Linked DNA regions of Homo sapiens: region 1 is linked to region 2. Evidence: fine-mapped expression QTL. A gene starts in region 2. The other region holds a variant in brackets. All regions are shown on one strand. Distances are from middle to middle.

The links. PIP is the estimated chance that this variant, and not a neighbour inherited with it, causes the effect.
Region 1: its variant is fine-mapped to the expression of SPTSSA in pancreas (GTEx, PIP 0.92).

The regions. Positions count from the first base shown.
Region 1 is chr14:34,376,016-34,384,353 of GRCh38, reverse strand. No RefSeq gene overlaps it. Among named protein-coding and RNA genes, the nearest start is that of SPTSSA, 82 kb to the left of the region's middle. The variant T/G (reference allele first, on the strand shown) is at 4,872.
Region 2 is chr14:34,458,378-34,466,715 of GRCh38, reverse strand. SPTSSA (serine palmitoyltransferase small subunit A) reads left to right here and starts at 4,476. Exons shown (of 2, transcript NM_138288.4): 1 at 4,476-4,620. The coding sequence starts at 4,509. RefSeq lists silencers at 3,954-4,463, 4,584-4,753 and enhancers at 3,663-4,613, 5,154-5,263, 7,624-8,125.

The DNA.
Region 1 (8,338 bases), 82 kb after region 2:
ATGCAGTGGGAATAGGACAAAACTAAAAATCAGTTTAAAGAGTTTATACGTGTTTACACTTTATAACAGGTGTTTACACTGCTTCCTAAGAAATTAATTACACATGAACTAATTCTAACATGAAAGACTGTGGACACTTATAATGCATACACAATAAACAACCAATGAATATGCATTCAATCAATGAACACTTATGAAGCACCTCAGCTGGGTATTGGGGCCTGTGAGGATAACTAGGAACTGATTTATGCTCTCAAGAAGCATGCAATCTAGTCTGAGAAGTCCCGGTCTAGCCTGGAGATTTCTTCAGGTTGCATAAGAATCACAGTGGTGTTGGTTGTGGCACTGGTTTGAATGCATCTCTACTTTTAAGTCTGATTCAGTAGGTCTGGGTTGGGACCTAGGGATCTGCATTTTAACAAACACCTTGTTCTACAGGTCGTCAGTGGAGAAATAATAATCTAGCTCTCCAAATAGCACCACATACAGAAGCAACTTTTACTGTATTGGGTCATGTATTATTGATTCTCACAGAGTTTGTCCCAGAATCCAGGACACTATTATCCATTTGGATAAAACAAAGTTTCTGCTTGTTCTTTGTTACATCAAATGAAAACAGCTGGATAGATTTTCACCAAATTAGAAGAGGATATTTGGGCTTGTCTGACTTAAGAGGTAAAGGAAATTTATTTTAGGGGTTCCCGAAGAGGGGTGTCCTTTGAAGAGACGGGCAGCTATCTTCCAGAGCCATATCAAATGCTGATTTCTGACAATGCCACTTCCCCCACAAGCAATCTAGGCTGAGGGTGGGAGCAGCAGGAGTTTATTGATGTAATGCTGGGTTAGTGATTGATGTGAGCAGCCCAGGGGAGGCCAGGGACCTGATAACAGCATCTTCACAAAAACATATGCTGGAGAAAATGGACCATAAATATGTAAACAGAGAGTTTTTTCTTGTTTTGAGACAGAGTCCCAGGCTGGAGTGCCATGGTGTGATCTCAGCTCACCGTAATCTCTGCCTCCCAGGTTCAAGCAATTCTCCTGCCTCAGCCTCCTGAGTAGCTGGGATTACAGGTGCATGCCACCATACCTGCTAATTTTTGTATTTTTTGTAGAGACAGGGTTTCGCCATGATGCCCAGGCTGGTCTTGAACTCCTGGCCTCAAGTGATCTACCCACCCCAGGCTCCCAGAATGCTGGGATTACAGGTATGAGCCACCAGGTCTGGCCTAGACAGACAGTTTTAATCCCCATTTTCCTATTTGTTTGGGAAGTCTGGACAATGATCTTGCCTTCTCTGTTTGTTTCTCTGGTTACATCATTAGGAGCATGCTGACTTTTTTCCATAAGGTTGTTGTAAGGAATAGTGAATAAAAGCCTCTGTTAAGCACTTGAAAATTTTATAAAGATGAGTTTTTTTAAAAGATGAGTTTCGTTGTAGTTAAAAATGTAGAATAAGTGGGACAAGCTAAATTTTATTGCAAGACCTTGAACTTAGTTTAATCCAGCATTACTTTTTAGTATATTGATCATTTCATTTCGTTCATTGTTTAGATGACTCAGTGTACAGATGTGATGTAATTTTAAAATAACATATGCTTACAGCAAAAGAAACTATCAATCAAGTCAACAGACAACCTACGGAATGGGAGAAAATATTTGCAAACTATGCATCCCACAAAGGTCGACTATCTAGAATCTAAAAGAACTTAAATTTATAAGCAAATAACAATCCCATTAAAAAGTGGGCAAAGGACGTGAACAGACCCTTTTAAAAAGAAGGCATACATGCAGCCAACAAGCATATGAAAAAATGTTTAACCTAATCATTAGAGAAATGCAAATCAAAATCATGGTAAGAGACCATTTCACACCAGTCAGCTGGCTATTGCTAAAAAGTCAAAAAGTAACAGATGCTGGTGAGGTTGTGAAGAAAAGGGAATGCTTATACACTGCTGGTGAGAGTGTAAATTAGTTCAGCCAATGTGGAAAGCAGTTTGGCAATTCCTCAAAGAACTTAAAACAGCCTTACCCAGTCCAGGTGCAGTAGCTCAGGCCTGTGATCCCAGGACTTTGCAAGGCTAAGCTGGGTGGATCACTTGAGGTCAGGAGTTCAAGACCAGCCTGGCCAACATGGGCAAACCTCTACTAAAAATACAAAAAACTTAGGTGGGTGTGGTGGCACATGCCTGTAATCCCAGCTACTTGGGAGGCTGAGGCATGAGAATTGCTTGAACCTAGGAAGTGGAGGTCCCAGTGAGCCGAGAGTACGCCACTGCTCTCCAGCCTGGGTGACAGAGTGAGACTCTGTCCCAAAAAAACAAAACAAGGCCGGGCGCAGTGGCTCATGCCTGTAATCCCAGCACTTAGGGAGGCTGAGGCGGGCAGATCACGAGGTCAGGAGATTGAGACCATCCTGGCTAACACAGTGAAACCCCGTCTCTACTAAAAATACAAAAAATTAGCCGGGCGTGGTGGTGGGCGCCTGTAGTCCCAGCTACTTGGGAGGCTGAGGCAGGAGAATGGCCTGAATCTGGGAGGCGGAGCTTGCAGTGAGCTGAGATTGCACCACTGCACTCCAGCCTGGGCGACAGTGCGAGACTCCGTCTCAAACAAATCAAAACAAAACAAAACCTAGACTTACTGTTTAACCCAAAAATCCCATTATTGGGTATATACCCAAAGGAATACAAATTGTTCTACCATAAAGACACATGCACACATATGTTCATTATGGCACTATTCACAATAGCAAAGACATGGAATCAACCTAAATTCCCATCAACTGTAGGCTGGATAAAGAAAATGTGGTGCATATACGCCATGGAATACTATGCAGCCATAAAAAAGGATGAGATCATGTCCTTTGCAGCAACATGGGTGGAGCTGGAGGCCATTATCCTAGGCAACCTAACACAGGAACAGAAAACCAAACACCACATATTCTCACTTATAAGTGGGAGCTTATAACAAGAAAAATGCATAGACACTAGGAGGGGAACAACAGACACTGCAGCTGACTTGAGGGTGGAGGGTAGAAGTCGGGAGAGGACTAGACAAAATACCTATCAGCGACTATGCTTATTACCTGGGTGACGAAATTATCTGTACACCAAACCCTGGTGACATGCAGTTGACCTATATAACAAACCTGCACATGTATCCCTGAACCTAAAATACAAGTTCAAAAAAATCATAATAAAATAAAATAAAATAAATGAAACCACATGTGCTTAGATTTTAAAAATCTAACAAGCCAGGCATAGTGGTGTTCACCTGTAGTCCCACCTACTTGGGAGGCTGAGGCAGGAGAATTCTTTGAGTCCAGGAGTTCAAGTCCAGCATGGGTAACATAGAGAGACCCCCGCCCCCTTACCAAATCTCTAAAGACAGACAGACAGACAGACAAACAAACAAACATCTAGCACGGGAACAAAGGCAATTGGAAAATAGGTTAAGCATATTTTTAGGAAGCTGAACAAGTTTTTAAGAGCTAAAACAAGTGAGAAGTATGCTAAGTAATGAAGTGTGGACTTACAAAGCAGCCTACTGTAAATTCTTTTGATTATTAATTTGCTAAAGGCCCTTGAGTCATGAATACAGATGAAAATCTATGGAAAATTGACACGTGTTCTCAAATTGGGGCCATACATCACCACGGCCAAGATATGGTGCAATATGATAGTCTTAAATGCTTAACGTAATGCTATGCCTATAATTACATGTATGGCGTTATCTTTAATATGAACTGATTAATGAGGGTGACATAAAGCAAGGATGAATGTTAGTTATTCAGACACTGATGTTCAGATAGCCACCTGAGAAGTCATTTTTCTCAAAGTTCTATTCCTTAAGGATTGTAGAAATGTCAATTGTTTTTGCAGTTTCCATTTCAAGAAGCAGTTATTCATAATCCCCAGAGAACTCTTCCCTAACAGACTACAATAAAACTTACAATTAATGGTGGTGACATTTTAGACCTAAATTACTGCCTTCATGCTTTAAATCATTATCCTGCTATCCCTATGCATGGAACTTTCAAAGTTTTCATTTCATTCCTGGCTTATCTCTCATCTCCACTGCGTGACTAGTTCCTTGTCCCTTACAAACGAATGCAGGAGGCTGAATTTCTAATGTTCCCCTTAAAATTCTCCTACTTGTTAACAGTACTTTTATGGTAGTTCATCTAAAATAGTTTTTCAACAAACTTCTCAAAGGCTGTCTCTGGCTGTCCATTTTCTTTCTTCATTTTTTAGCTGAATAGCTGGTATACACTAGTCCATTCTGGTATTTGTGTGTTTCCTCCCCTCTCTCTCTTTTTCTACTTTATTTCTCAAAGGTGATTGATATCTTCAATCCCTAGTTACCCCATCATGTGAGCCTCTTTGTTCTCCATGTCCTTCCCACTCTGCTCACAGGGCCCTTGGACTCTGCCTCCCTCTCTCTATCCTTCTTCAAAGGCCACTAAAGAGGTTCTTTTTACGAACTTTTTCTTGGTAAACTGAAGACAGAGTGCTGGGAAACGAAACCTTGAAAAAGACCTTGGAAACCTTGACCAGACGCTGGGCAGTCTGGTTCCCTTTGTCTCTCAGCCCCCAAGGGCTTCTCTCCTCTATCCCTGCTGTGAGCTAGTCACTGGAAAAACACACCTGACCTTGCCAGCCAAGTGAGGGTGCCAAGAATGAGAGGGAAGCATTCTTCTCATCAGCAGATGGGAGGTCTCCCTCAAAGGATTTCTCAATGCCGCCTGAATCAAAGCCTGTGTTTCCCAGAGCAAGGTATTCCCTGGAGGCCTCCTGAGCTCTGGCCACAGTGTTCTCATACAGCTAGCAAGAAGTCATAATGGAATTCGCTCCAACAATCCCACTGCC[T/G]TGTTGTTGTTCTGTTCTTGAAGCTTACTCTGTATCATAAACATAATTATAAGAAGAAGTTAAACATATAAATGTGTTCTAAAGAAATGGGCTTTTGTGGCAGGGCGCAGTGGCTAACGCCTGTAATCCCAGCACTTTGGGAGGCCGAGGTGGGTGGATCACCTGAGGTTGGGAGTTCGAGACCAGCCTGGCCAACATGGTGAAACCCCCGTCTCCACGAAAAATGCAAAAATTACCCGGGTGAAGTGACACGTGCCTGTAATCCCAGCTACTCAGAGGCTGGGGAAGGAGAATCACTTGAACCTGGGAGGCAGAGGTTGCAGAGAGCCGAGATCGCGCCACTGCACTCCAGCCTGGGCGACAGAGCGAGACTCTGTCTCAGAAACAAAACAAAACAGAAATGGGCTTTTGCTATGCAGTGGATGGGACCTCGGCTTTTTGAGAGTGATTGGTGGTATGCAAAATGTGGAGAATCCCTCCTCGAGGCCAGATTCTTTGGTATCAATAGTGCTTCATGTAGAGATCCTTTTGTTTGGATCTCTACAATCTTTGGATTGTTTGTCAGAGATTGAGAAGGCACCAGTCTCCTCCTTTTCCCATTGGTTACCACCTCCTGTGTGCATAGAATATTGTATTTTTAAAATCATAGAGTTAGAACATAGGGGTGTGGGTAAATTTTCCTTAGTCCAATACAATTAATTTGATATCCAAAATGAGCTTGTTTCCTGCTTTGCATTTCAACCCCCTAACCCACCCATCCCCACTTTACCCAACATTCTTTGAAGGCTGGGGTTTATCTCATCGTTGAGAAGGAAAAGGCCAAAGGCTTGACTTTCAAATAATTCATTTCCTGCAGTCGCTCACATTCCCAGTCTCTTTTCTTGTTCCTATTTTTAGCTGGTCATAGCTCTTTATAATTTGGAAATTAAAGTCCTTAAAAACAAAGAAATAAACAATTTCACTGGGATGACTGTCAATTTTAAAATAAGCAATTGTTGAGTGCCTACTATAAACTCAGAATGGACTAGGCACTTAAAAAAAGCCAAATTAAAAACAAGGTCCATGTCATTAAGAATCTCATAGTCAGCAGGGAAGGCAGTTGCATAAACAAATAATTTAATACAAAGAAATAAATTGCTTTCATGAGGTTATATATCTGGACCAATGAGAAAATCGGAGAAATGGAGCTTCTTAGTAGATCTGGGCAATGCAGACAAAGCTTTCCAACAGACATATCTTCTCTAGGAGGAGTGTGTGGGGAGGGGTTGTTACAGAGGTGGAGGGGATAGTATGTAGCTCAGAGAATGGCATGTGTGCAGGCCCAGTGGCTCTGGAGGACAGCACGTACTCAGAGTCACCACAGCAATCGAGTATGTCTGGAGAACTGGCTGTGAATGGGTGCAGAAGGAGACTGAGACTAGGAAGGAATGCAGGGATGAAGATCACAGAAGGCCTTGCCTACCATGGAAAAGGAGTTTGTTAGGTTTTATCTTCAAGACACTAGGAAGCCACTGAAAGATTCTGAGCAGGGTAGTGGTGTGATCAGACTTTTGTGTTGGAAACATCCTCTGTAGAGAAAGAAGGGTGGAAGATAGATTGGAGGGCAGCAAGACTGGAGGCAAGAAAGACCAGTGGGAGGATGCTTGTTTAATATTTAGTTTAAGAGAGACAATGAAGACAAGAACAGGGCAGTGGGGTAGAGATAGAGAAGAAAAGTTTATAAGATACATAGGATTTGGTGATTGATTACTTATGGAGCAAGAAAGAGAGACATTTCTGGCTTGGTCAGCTTGACATTTCTCAAGATAGAGAAGACAGAGGAATAGGATTTTTGTGGCAGGGGTTGGGAAGAGGAAGGATCCCTCTGTGGTCTCAGTCTAGGAAGTCCCCCAACCTTCCTTGGTTCTCCATGACCTGAACTTTGAGAGTCCAGATCAGTTGTCCCACACGACAGCCTATACCCTGGATCATAGTTAGATTTAAACCTGCTATTTTCAGTAGTTTACCAGTAAGTGATGTTTGTACCTCCCACTGTGTCACATCAAAGAGAATCTAATGTTAGGAGCCCATCCCTTTTATAGTGAGACTTTTGACTATCATATCAGAAATTGTCCAGATTATTGGATCTTACAAATCAGACATATATGAGTATATATATATATATTTTTTTTTTGGTGGTCCTGGTCTTTTGTAAAAAATGATACATGTTCTGAGTATTTCATCTTTAAAGTATGGCTTAATGAAAGCCAACTTTGGAGCTATTTATTCAGATTGTTTTTTCTTGGTTTTATGTTCCCATGGAAACCTGTATAGCAAATAGGTTGTTCTGAGTGAGGCCTGGCCTGGTTCAGTTAAATCCAAAGGCTTCAGTCAATCTGGTTCACTGACATGAGTAATTTTCTGTCTGCCTAACCATTATCCCCTACAATTCTGATAGATAAACCAGTGTTTAAGGGGCAGACAGAGAGGAGTTGCCTACTGAGAAGACTGAGAAGCAGCAGCCAGAGAGAGAAAAGGTGAATTGGGAGCAAGGGAATGTCTATATCAGTCAGGACTCATTGGTGGCAAATAACAGAAGCCAGTGCAAACCGACTGAAGGAAAGAAAGGAGAGTCTTACACAGATACGGGAGTAGTCAGATATGCAGATATAGGCATGTAACTGGAATTTGTGGCTAGAACATTTTGGGAAATGCAATAACTTCATTTTTCTTCTCTATTCCAAAATACTTGGGAAGTCACTGGTTGGTCTTGCTTGGTGAGGCCCAGCCCTGGGTGGTCAGCCCTGGCAGGAAGCGGGAGGGCTGCAAGTACAAAAACAGGGTGGTTGGGGGCCAAACTGGGTGTTAAGGGCATTTCCTAGAAAAGAAGACATTGTTGGCCAGGCTCTAAGAGGGATTTATCACAGTGATGTCAAGACACTGAGGAAAAGAGTTTCAGGATATGGGATGGGTTGCTGTGATATACAGCAGGAGGTCAAATGAGAGGGGAAAAATACTCCTTGGGTTTGGCATTTGGACTGTCAATGGTAACTTTAGCAGGATTGCTTTTAGTGGAGTGAGGGCAGGGGATTCAGGAGAGAGTGAGAAGAAAGGGGCACAAAGATCTGTGTCCTAGAAGCTTGCTTTGAAAGGAAAGAGAGATGTCCACTAGCAGCTAAGGTTTAAGGTGGAAGAGACTTTTGCTAAAGCTGGGATTCTTCACCTGGGCTCCAGGGCTCTGGGAATCTCTCAAGCCTTTGGAAATAGCATGTAAATTTACCTGCTTCTCAAAGAGATCTGTGATCCACAAATACTAAGAACCACCGTGCTAAAGGAATGGTGGCAATAGAAAGGGAGAAGTGAAGGAAATGGGAGAGGTGATAGATACCTTGAGGAGGGGGCCAGAGTAGGAGCCAGAACACAAGAAGGATGACCTTTGTTGGGAAGAGGATGGTTGGTTTATTTCTTCTTCTGAGGGGTGTGGGGGC
Region 2 (8,338 bases):
CCCTGCAACAGAACCCTTCTTGCCAACCCTCTCTCTCTTGCCCCCGACTTCACTTTCCTGTATAAACAAAGACTCCTCTACTGTCACCCTCTTTGGGAACACTCTACCTCTTTCTTTTCCCCTGAGGATATGACCTAAGTCCTCCTACCAGAGAGCTGGGGGTGGGACTGGGGGTGGGGCGGGATTGGCTTTCTTCTTGCTCTCCAGTACTGCCTCCTAACCAAAACCATGTGCCACTGGGCTTTGCCCCCTTCATCCACCTGTCTCCTGAGTTTTCCTCTATGCTCACTGAAGACTTTGACATTTGCTTTACAGACTTTTCCTCTCGACACTTAGTTCTGCCATCATCCTGGACAACTTTATCTTTCCTGTGGTCTTTACTATCCCCTCCACTCCACTTTAGCTGCCTATCCCATGGTCACAACCTGTGCCTGGTCATTGTCTAAGACTGGCCTATTTCTGTACTCCTAAGCTTCAGAAGCACAGCCGTGGCCCTCCTCCTCCAACATAGACTCTTTCCCATGCACCTACTCCTACAGTTTCCAACCTCACACAGCTCTGGACTACTCCATTTTATCTTTTCATCATTTACTTCCCTCCGTGACCTAATTCTCCTAGTCATTATTTCAATTATTCTCTCTCCATCAACCTTCTTGCTTGTTTCTCCATTGTATCCATCCAGCAAACCCTGCCTTGGAGGAAGTCTCCTAATTCAACTTCTCTAGTTCTATATATACTCGGTACTTGTGTATTGTTGGTAAAAACTGTATGGTTTTTCTGCCTGACAATCCTTAGGCAGCTTTAGGAAACTTCTCCCATCTCCCTTTTTCTTTTTCATACCCTCCACTCTTCAACATCTTGCTCACTCTCAACAAGAGGCCTTTATTTTTTCACTAAGAAAACTGATGTTGTAAGGTAGGGAGTTCCTTAACTTACTTGTCTGTGTTTATGTCCATCTGGCTCCCATCTTTCCATCCTCCTCCTCTTGGGGAAAGAGCTACCAGTTCCTGTTTATTAAGGCTTTGGATCTGGTCCCCCAGCCCACCATCTTTATCCATATCTTTACTCTAAGCCCATAAACTTGCTTACTCCTTTCCCATCTGAAAATGAAACCAAACTGAAACCCTTGCCACCATTCTATCTCCTTCCCTTCACAGGCAAGCTTCCTGCAAAACTAAGCCTGAATTAACTGTCCTCATTGTTTTACTTCCTGTTCTCTCCTCAGCCTTCTATAATCCGGCTTCTGTCCTATCATCATTCCACAATGAAATGCTGAGTCATCAATCTAGCCCCATGTGGACAAAACAAATTGGCGCTTCCCTTCCTTATTTTGCTTATCCTCCCTGAGCCATTTGTTCTGCTGGCTATCCCTTCCTCCATTAGCTTCTCCTGTATGTCTCTCCTCATTGCTGTCAAATCTCAGGTAGCTCCTTCCCTGTATTGGCTTCCTTTGGACTCTCATTGGCCAAATGCCAGAATCTCTGGGTTTATTCTGTACCCTGCTCTTCCCATTCTATGTGCTTTCCTTGGGTGACCTCATCTGCTCTTCTGGCTTCAATGACCAGGGACATATTGAAAATTCATATGCCTCTAGTTCCATTCAGGCTTCACTTCTGAGTTCCAAACCATGTGCTCAATTGTCCCCTGGACACCTCCATTTAAGTGTCCCTCAGGTACCTCAGACATAGCTTCATCCTAACAAAATCAATATCTTTTCAGCCAAACGTCTTCCTTCGGTTTCTTTGTATTGTCATCATCCAGGATCTCAGCCTCTTTTCCTCATTTCTAGTCAGTCACCAACTTTAGTGAGATGAGGTGGTAGAGCTGGTCTCCGAGAGACACGCAGTGGATTGGGAGCTACTAACAGTGAGGACAACCACCTGGCAGACATGGTGCTAGGGAGTGGACCCAGTAAAGGAAGGGTGGCTACGGGTGATGCTTCCAATCTTGGATGAATTTTATGTAGCATCACCAGATGCTGAGGGTAGTTGGAGTTCTCGAGGAAAAAGGAATGAGCTTGCCTGTGCCTGAACAGGAACAGGGACAGAAAGAAGTCCAAAACAGTTAAGTTTGAAAGTAGGAGGGCACGTGTACCTGCATCTCTGAGGGGTAAGGAGGTTTCAAGTATTTGTGGGTTCTACCTTTGTAATGTCTTCCCAACCTGTTTTTTCCCTCGGTAGCCTCCAGGCTACTACCCACACCCAAGTCTTGTTCCGAAAGCATTTTTTTTTTTTAAACGGAGTCTTGCTCTTGTTGCCCAGGCTGGAGTGCAATGGTGTGATCTCAGCTCACTACGACCTCCGCCTCCCGGGTTCAAGCGATTCTCCTGCCTCAGCCTCCCAAATAGTTGGGATTACAGGCACCCACCATCACGCCCGGCTAATTTTTTATATTTTTAGTAGAGACGGGGTTTCACCATGTTGGCCAGGCTGGTCTGGAACTCCTGACCTCATGTGATCCACCCGCCTTGGACTCCCAAAGTGCTGGGATTATAGGTGTGAGCCACCACACCCAGCCCTGAAAGAAAATCTTATTTAAGTTGTTGGCTCCAGTAACTTTTGGACATCAAGTTAAAAATTTCTTAGCTTCTCAAACAAGGTCCTTCAGAATATGGTCCCTGTTTGCTGTCTAGGCCCATCTCTTGCTACTGCATATACATTCTTTTTGCTCCAGCCACATGGAAGTTCTTCCAGTCTTCTAAAAACATCACAACTTCATCCTTAGAATGTCTGTCTCACCCTCTCTTCCCCAAGCTCATTCATTCTTCCATTTCTGCTTGTCCTTCAACACTCAGTTCAAGCACCATTTCTCAGAAGACTTTCACAAGCCCAATCTGATTTTGTCTGGGCTATCTTGGTATCCTAAAGGATACGATCCACAAAAATATCATTTACCACACCTCACTGTAATCCATTAACTTGCCTCTCTTCCCCAGCAGACTGGGTACTTTATGAAGGCAGGTCTCAGTCTATCTGGCTTGCTATCCCAATGTCTGGCACTTGATATTACTTACTGTTTTCTTTCTTTTCTTCTCTTCTCTTCTGTTTTCTCCTCTCTTTCTCTGTCTCCTTTCTTTCCTTTCTTTTGCTCTGCCACCTAAGATGGAGTGCAGTGGCACCATCCTGGCTCACTGCAACCTCGACCTCCCGTGCTCGAGCAATCCTCCCGCCTCAACCTCCTGAGTAGCTGGGACTACAGGTGCACGCCACCACCCCTGGCTAACTTTTTGTTATGTATTTACTTATTTTTTTTGGTAGAGACGGGGTTTCACCATGTTGCTCAGGCTGGTCTCGACCTTCTGGACTCAAGTGATCCGCCAGCCTCAGCCTCCCAAAGTGCTTGGATTACAGGCATGAGCTACGGCGCTTGGCCGGCACTTGGTACTTTTAATGAATAGTTATTAACCATGAAACTTTTAAAGTTTAAGCAGTAGTATGTTTAACCTGGAAGACTTTTAACATTTAAACAGCAGGCCATTTAATTGTGGCAGTTCACATGCTACACCAGTGCATGGAGCTCCTTGTGGCCAGTGCAATGTTGCTGGCCCATCTGGCAGTGGGAAAATCTGGGCATCCAGGAGTGCATCTCTAGGGAAGTATCACCAGCCCTCACACCAATCTCAAGCTGCCTGTCTTCTGCAGAACCCACTAGATCAGCGCGCTTCTGGCCTTGACCCACTTGGTGGTTACCTACAGCCACTAAGAGGTGGGCAGATAGATGTTTTTGGTAAGTGGTCTCTGGGTTAGGGAGTGCATGGGTTATGTCCGTCTAGGGGTGTGTGTGTGTGTGTGTGTGTGTGTGTGTGTGTGTGTGTGTGTGTGCATGGGTGGGGGAAGGGAGGAAGGAGGCCGAATGTGCATCCCTTCTACAAGGACGCCTTTCCAGACCTCCTTATTAGGTGGCGTTCGCCTCCTCACCCTCTCTCAGCCCCTTATCTCCTCTTACACGGATCACGACTTGATTAATGCTTGTCTCCCAGCTAGGCCGCCAGCTGCACAAGGTAAGGAACCGAAGGCATTCCGGTTCTCCCTGGCAATCCTCCTTCTCAGAAGGATGCCTGAGGCATAACAAGTGTTCCAGAAATATTTCTTCCGCAAGCGCTCTGGGCCAGTCTGGACGGACCGAGCGCCCGCTGGGCTGCGGGGGCCCCGGGACCCCGGCCGGCACTGACGCCCCGCCCACCACCGGCCGGCCCGGGCGGGGTGGGGCGCGGCTGGGCGCTCTCGCGGGGACCGTTCTCCGGCTAGCGTGGGCGATGCCCGGGCGGGGAAACGGGAGGGGACGACGCGACGCGAGGTAGCGGCCTGGCCAATGAGCGCGGGTCGGGCGGGGCTGGGGGCCGGCGGCCGGGGCGCGCGCGGGTCTGGGCGTGCCGCGGGTGACGGCGGGGCCGGGCGGGCCAATGGGCGCTGGGTGGCGGGCGGGCGGGCCTGGCGGCCGGGGGCTTTAGGACGTGAGCGGGCGGCCGGCCGGACAGACTGACGTGTGAGCTGCATCGCGGGAGGCGCATGGCGGGGATGGCGCTGGCGCGGGCCTGGAAGCAGATGTCCTGGTTCTACTACCAGTACCTGCTGGTCACGGCGCTCTACATGCTGGAGCCCTGGGAGCGGACGGTGTTCAGTATCCTGTCCCGGCCGCGCGCGCGGGGGCCGGGCTGGGGGCGCGGGCCGCGGGGCCGCATTTCCCCAGGCCCCGGGCCTGGGGTGGAGGCTGGAGCGGCGGCCCCGCCGGTCCTGTGCGCGGAAGCCGGGGGTGCAGGGGGAGGTCTGGGGGCCGAGGGCGGCGCTCGCGGGGTTAAGTGGGGGGTGGGGGAGACGAGAACTCTTGAGATCCGGGGTCACCTGTGAGTCGCTGGACCCAAGGGGGAAGCGTCTTGATTCCTGGAGGAAATCTCCGAAGGTGATGTGTAACCCTGTGTGTCGCCTGCACTTCGGCCGCAACTGCCTTTGGTTCAGTCCCCTGTTCCTGTAGGAGGCGGGGATCATGTAACAGTGGAGCACATCGCTCCCGGCTTGGACGCCTTTGACCTTTAAGTGTTCCTGATTTAGTTGGCTTTGGGTCTACCAAGAATTCTAGTCAGTTAACTAGCTTTTAAGCCAGGTTCTGAATTTGTAGGCATGACACTCCAGTAGTTTTTGAAAGCAGTTTAAGTTATTGTATCTTTTTGGTCTTCAAGTTGGGGAGTTTTAAAAGTGTATTTATTGCTTCTGTGCACCGTCCGTAGAAGTCGGCCCGAAAAGTGGTGCAATTTGTGGTTAGTTGTCGGTAGGGTTTGAAACTGTGTTTTGGTGGATAGTTAATAAATTCTTGTTAATGACTATTGAGTGGTTACTATAAGCAAAGCATTTGTGCAAAGCACGTTGTCTGTATCTTAACTCATCTAACTTTGAGAACTTCAGTTAATAACTCAGGGTTGTGAAGATAGGCTCCCTGAAAGTCTGATGTTTCTTGTCTCTGCTTGTCCATATTGACATCCTTTGATGATATTCTTGCAGATTAAATACTGATAATGAATGAGATGTAACTTTTAAAAAACTCAGGCCAATACAAAACAGGTATTTCACAAAACATGTTTAGTTTATCCACGTTCTCTCCTTTTCAGTGTGGTTTAGTTGGAGTAGCTTACTTCAGAATAACTTTGCGAATGCATTGTTGCATTCCAGTGAGTGACTGAGGTAATTTCATTCTAAGCCTTATCAAGTGTGTTTATTTGTTTTGAGATAGCTTAAGGTTGTACTCAAAGCTGAGTCTTTTGTTTAAGCACTTTTGAGGAATTTGAGATGCTTTCAAAGCAGTTTATTTATTTATTACTGTTGGCATTTCTTTCCAAACCTGGAATTTAAGAACCAGAATGCATATTTTGGATTTAGACTCTGAATATAGTTTGCTTTGATTTCCTGCACCATTTATTTGTAGCTGCAGTTTAGTCTCACTCTTTAGGGCTCGCAAGGTCATGCCTTGTAAAATATATACTTGAATGCATATTTAATAGAAGTCTCTCAGTAGAAGCAAGTATATCTTGACTGACATAACACATCCTAAAATTAATTTAAACAATGCTGGGTTAAAATGAAACTCTTTAAATCAGAGGTTGAATGTAGAGTGCACTATTAGAATCTAGTATAGATTTGACACCTAAAATCTAATATAGATTTTACACACTAAAATGCTACAGTTATCAATGATGTTAAGATTTTTCTGTTATGTTGCAATAGTGATAGTGTCCTATAAATAACTAGGTGATGCCTTTTTTGGGGGATGGAGAAATAAATTATGAAATGAAATATAGTGCCTTAGTAGATATTTGCCTTTAATGTTTTTGAGTTACCATGGTTTAGCGACAAGTAGTTTCAATTTTTTTTTCAAATAGGTGAGAACTGCAACCAACTGACATCCAATATTATAGAACCTTATGATTTTAAACTTAAGATAAAAAAATCTTATTTCAAATTTCACGTTATTGAATTAACTCAGGTTAGAAATGCAATTGTTTGACATAAGCCAGTCTTGAATTACTATCAGCTGTTGTATTTATATTTTTCCACTTCAACTTCTAGAATCATTTAAAACTATCTGATAGTTTGGAACATCAATTTGAGATTGAATCCTCATTTTAGCTTGGTGGAAAGAACTGAATGAGAAAACTGGATTTTTTTCCCTACTTGTCAGGAGGCTTACTCTGAAGTAGTTTGAATTTCATAAATCCATTAATGATTAGTAAGCTTCACCCAGAACTAATCTGTGGCCAGCTACAGGCTTTTGGAAAGAGGCATACTTTCTACAGCTTAAACATTACATTCAACTTAATCATCAATCCTAGAAACCTAAAATTTAGAGAAATTTGCCTCTGCCTGTCTGAAAATTTGTCTCTGAGTTAGAAGTCCTGAACAGAGGAAGACTTCAGATTGATTTCTTTTCTTTGTGTGTGTGTGTGTGAGACAGTGTTTTGTTCTTGTTGCCCGGCTGGAGTGTAATGTCGCCATCTTGGCTCACTGCAACCTCCGCCTCCCAGGTTCAAGCGATTCTCCTGCCTCAGCCTCCAGAATAGCCGGGATTACAGGTGCCTGCCACCACGCCTGGCTAATTTTTGTATTTTTAGTAGAGATGGGGTTTCGCCATGTTGGCCAGGCTGGTCTCGAACTCCTGACCTCAAGTGATCTGCCCACTGCAGCCTCCCAAAATGCTGGGATTACAGGCATGAGCTACCACGCCTGGCCAGATTAATTTTCTTCTTTTTCTTTTTCTTTTTTTTTTTTTGAGACGGTGTCTCGCTCTGTTGCCGAGGCTGGAGTGTGGTGGTGCAATCTTGGCTCACTGCAACTTTGCATCCCGGATTCAAGCGATTCTCCTGCCTCAGCCTTCTGAGGTAGCTGGGATTACAGGTGCCCACCACCACGCCCAGCTAATTTTTGTATTTTTAATAGAGGCGGAGTTGGGGGTGGGGTGGGGGTGGGGTGGTTTTACCATGTTGGCCAGTCTGGTCTCAAACTCCTGACCTCAAGTGATCCGCCTGCCTTGGCCTCCCAAAAGTGCTGGGATTACAGGTGTGAGCCACCGCGCCTGGCCCAGATTAATTTCTTAAAGAGGATAGATGCATTAGTTTACATTTCCTGCTATATAATGCATTTTTAAAAATTTGAAGTTGTGGGCCGAGTGTGGTGGTGGACGCCTGAAATCCCACTAGTCGGGAGGCTGAGGCAGGAGAATCGCTTGAACCCGGGAGGCGGAGGTTGCAGTGAGCCGAGATCACGCCACTGCACTCTAGCCTCAGTGACAGAGTGAGACTCCGTCTCAAAAAAAAAAAAAAAAAAGTTGTAATTTCAGGGGAAATTGATAACGTACTATCACTGTACTTTCCAGGGGCATCCTTGAGCATCTGAATGGATGTTTAGAAATTATTTGCTTCTTGACTTCCCAAGTCAAATAGCTAGAAGTTAGTTAAAAGCTGTTGTAAATTGAAAGTCAATCTTGGCCGGGCGCGGTGGCGGTTCACCAGTCTGGCCAACATGGTGAAACCCCATCTCTACCAAAAAAAAAAAAAAAAAAAAAAAATTAGCTGAGTGTGGTGGCGCACGACTGTAGTCCCAGCTACTCGGGAGGCTGAGGCAGGAGAATCGCTTGAACCCAGGAGGCAAAGGTTGCAGTGAGCCGAGATCGTGCCACTGCACTCCAGCCTGGGCCACAGAGCAAGACTCCATCTCAAAAAAAAAAATAAAAAGAAAGTCGATCTTAGGCCTGGCGCGGTAGCTCACACCTGTAATCCCAGCACTCTGGGAGGCCGCGGTGGGCAGATAGCTGGAGTCCAGGAATGTGAGACCAGCCTAGAAAACATGGTGAA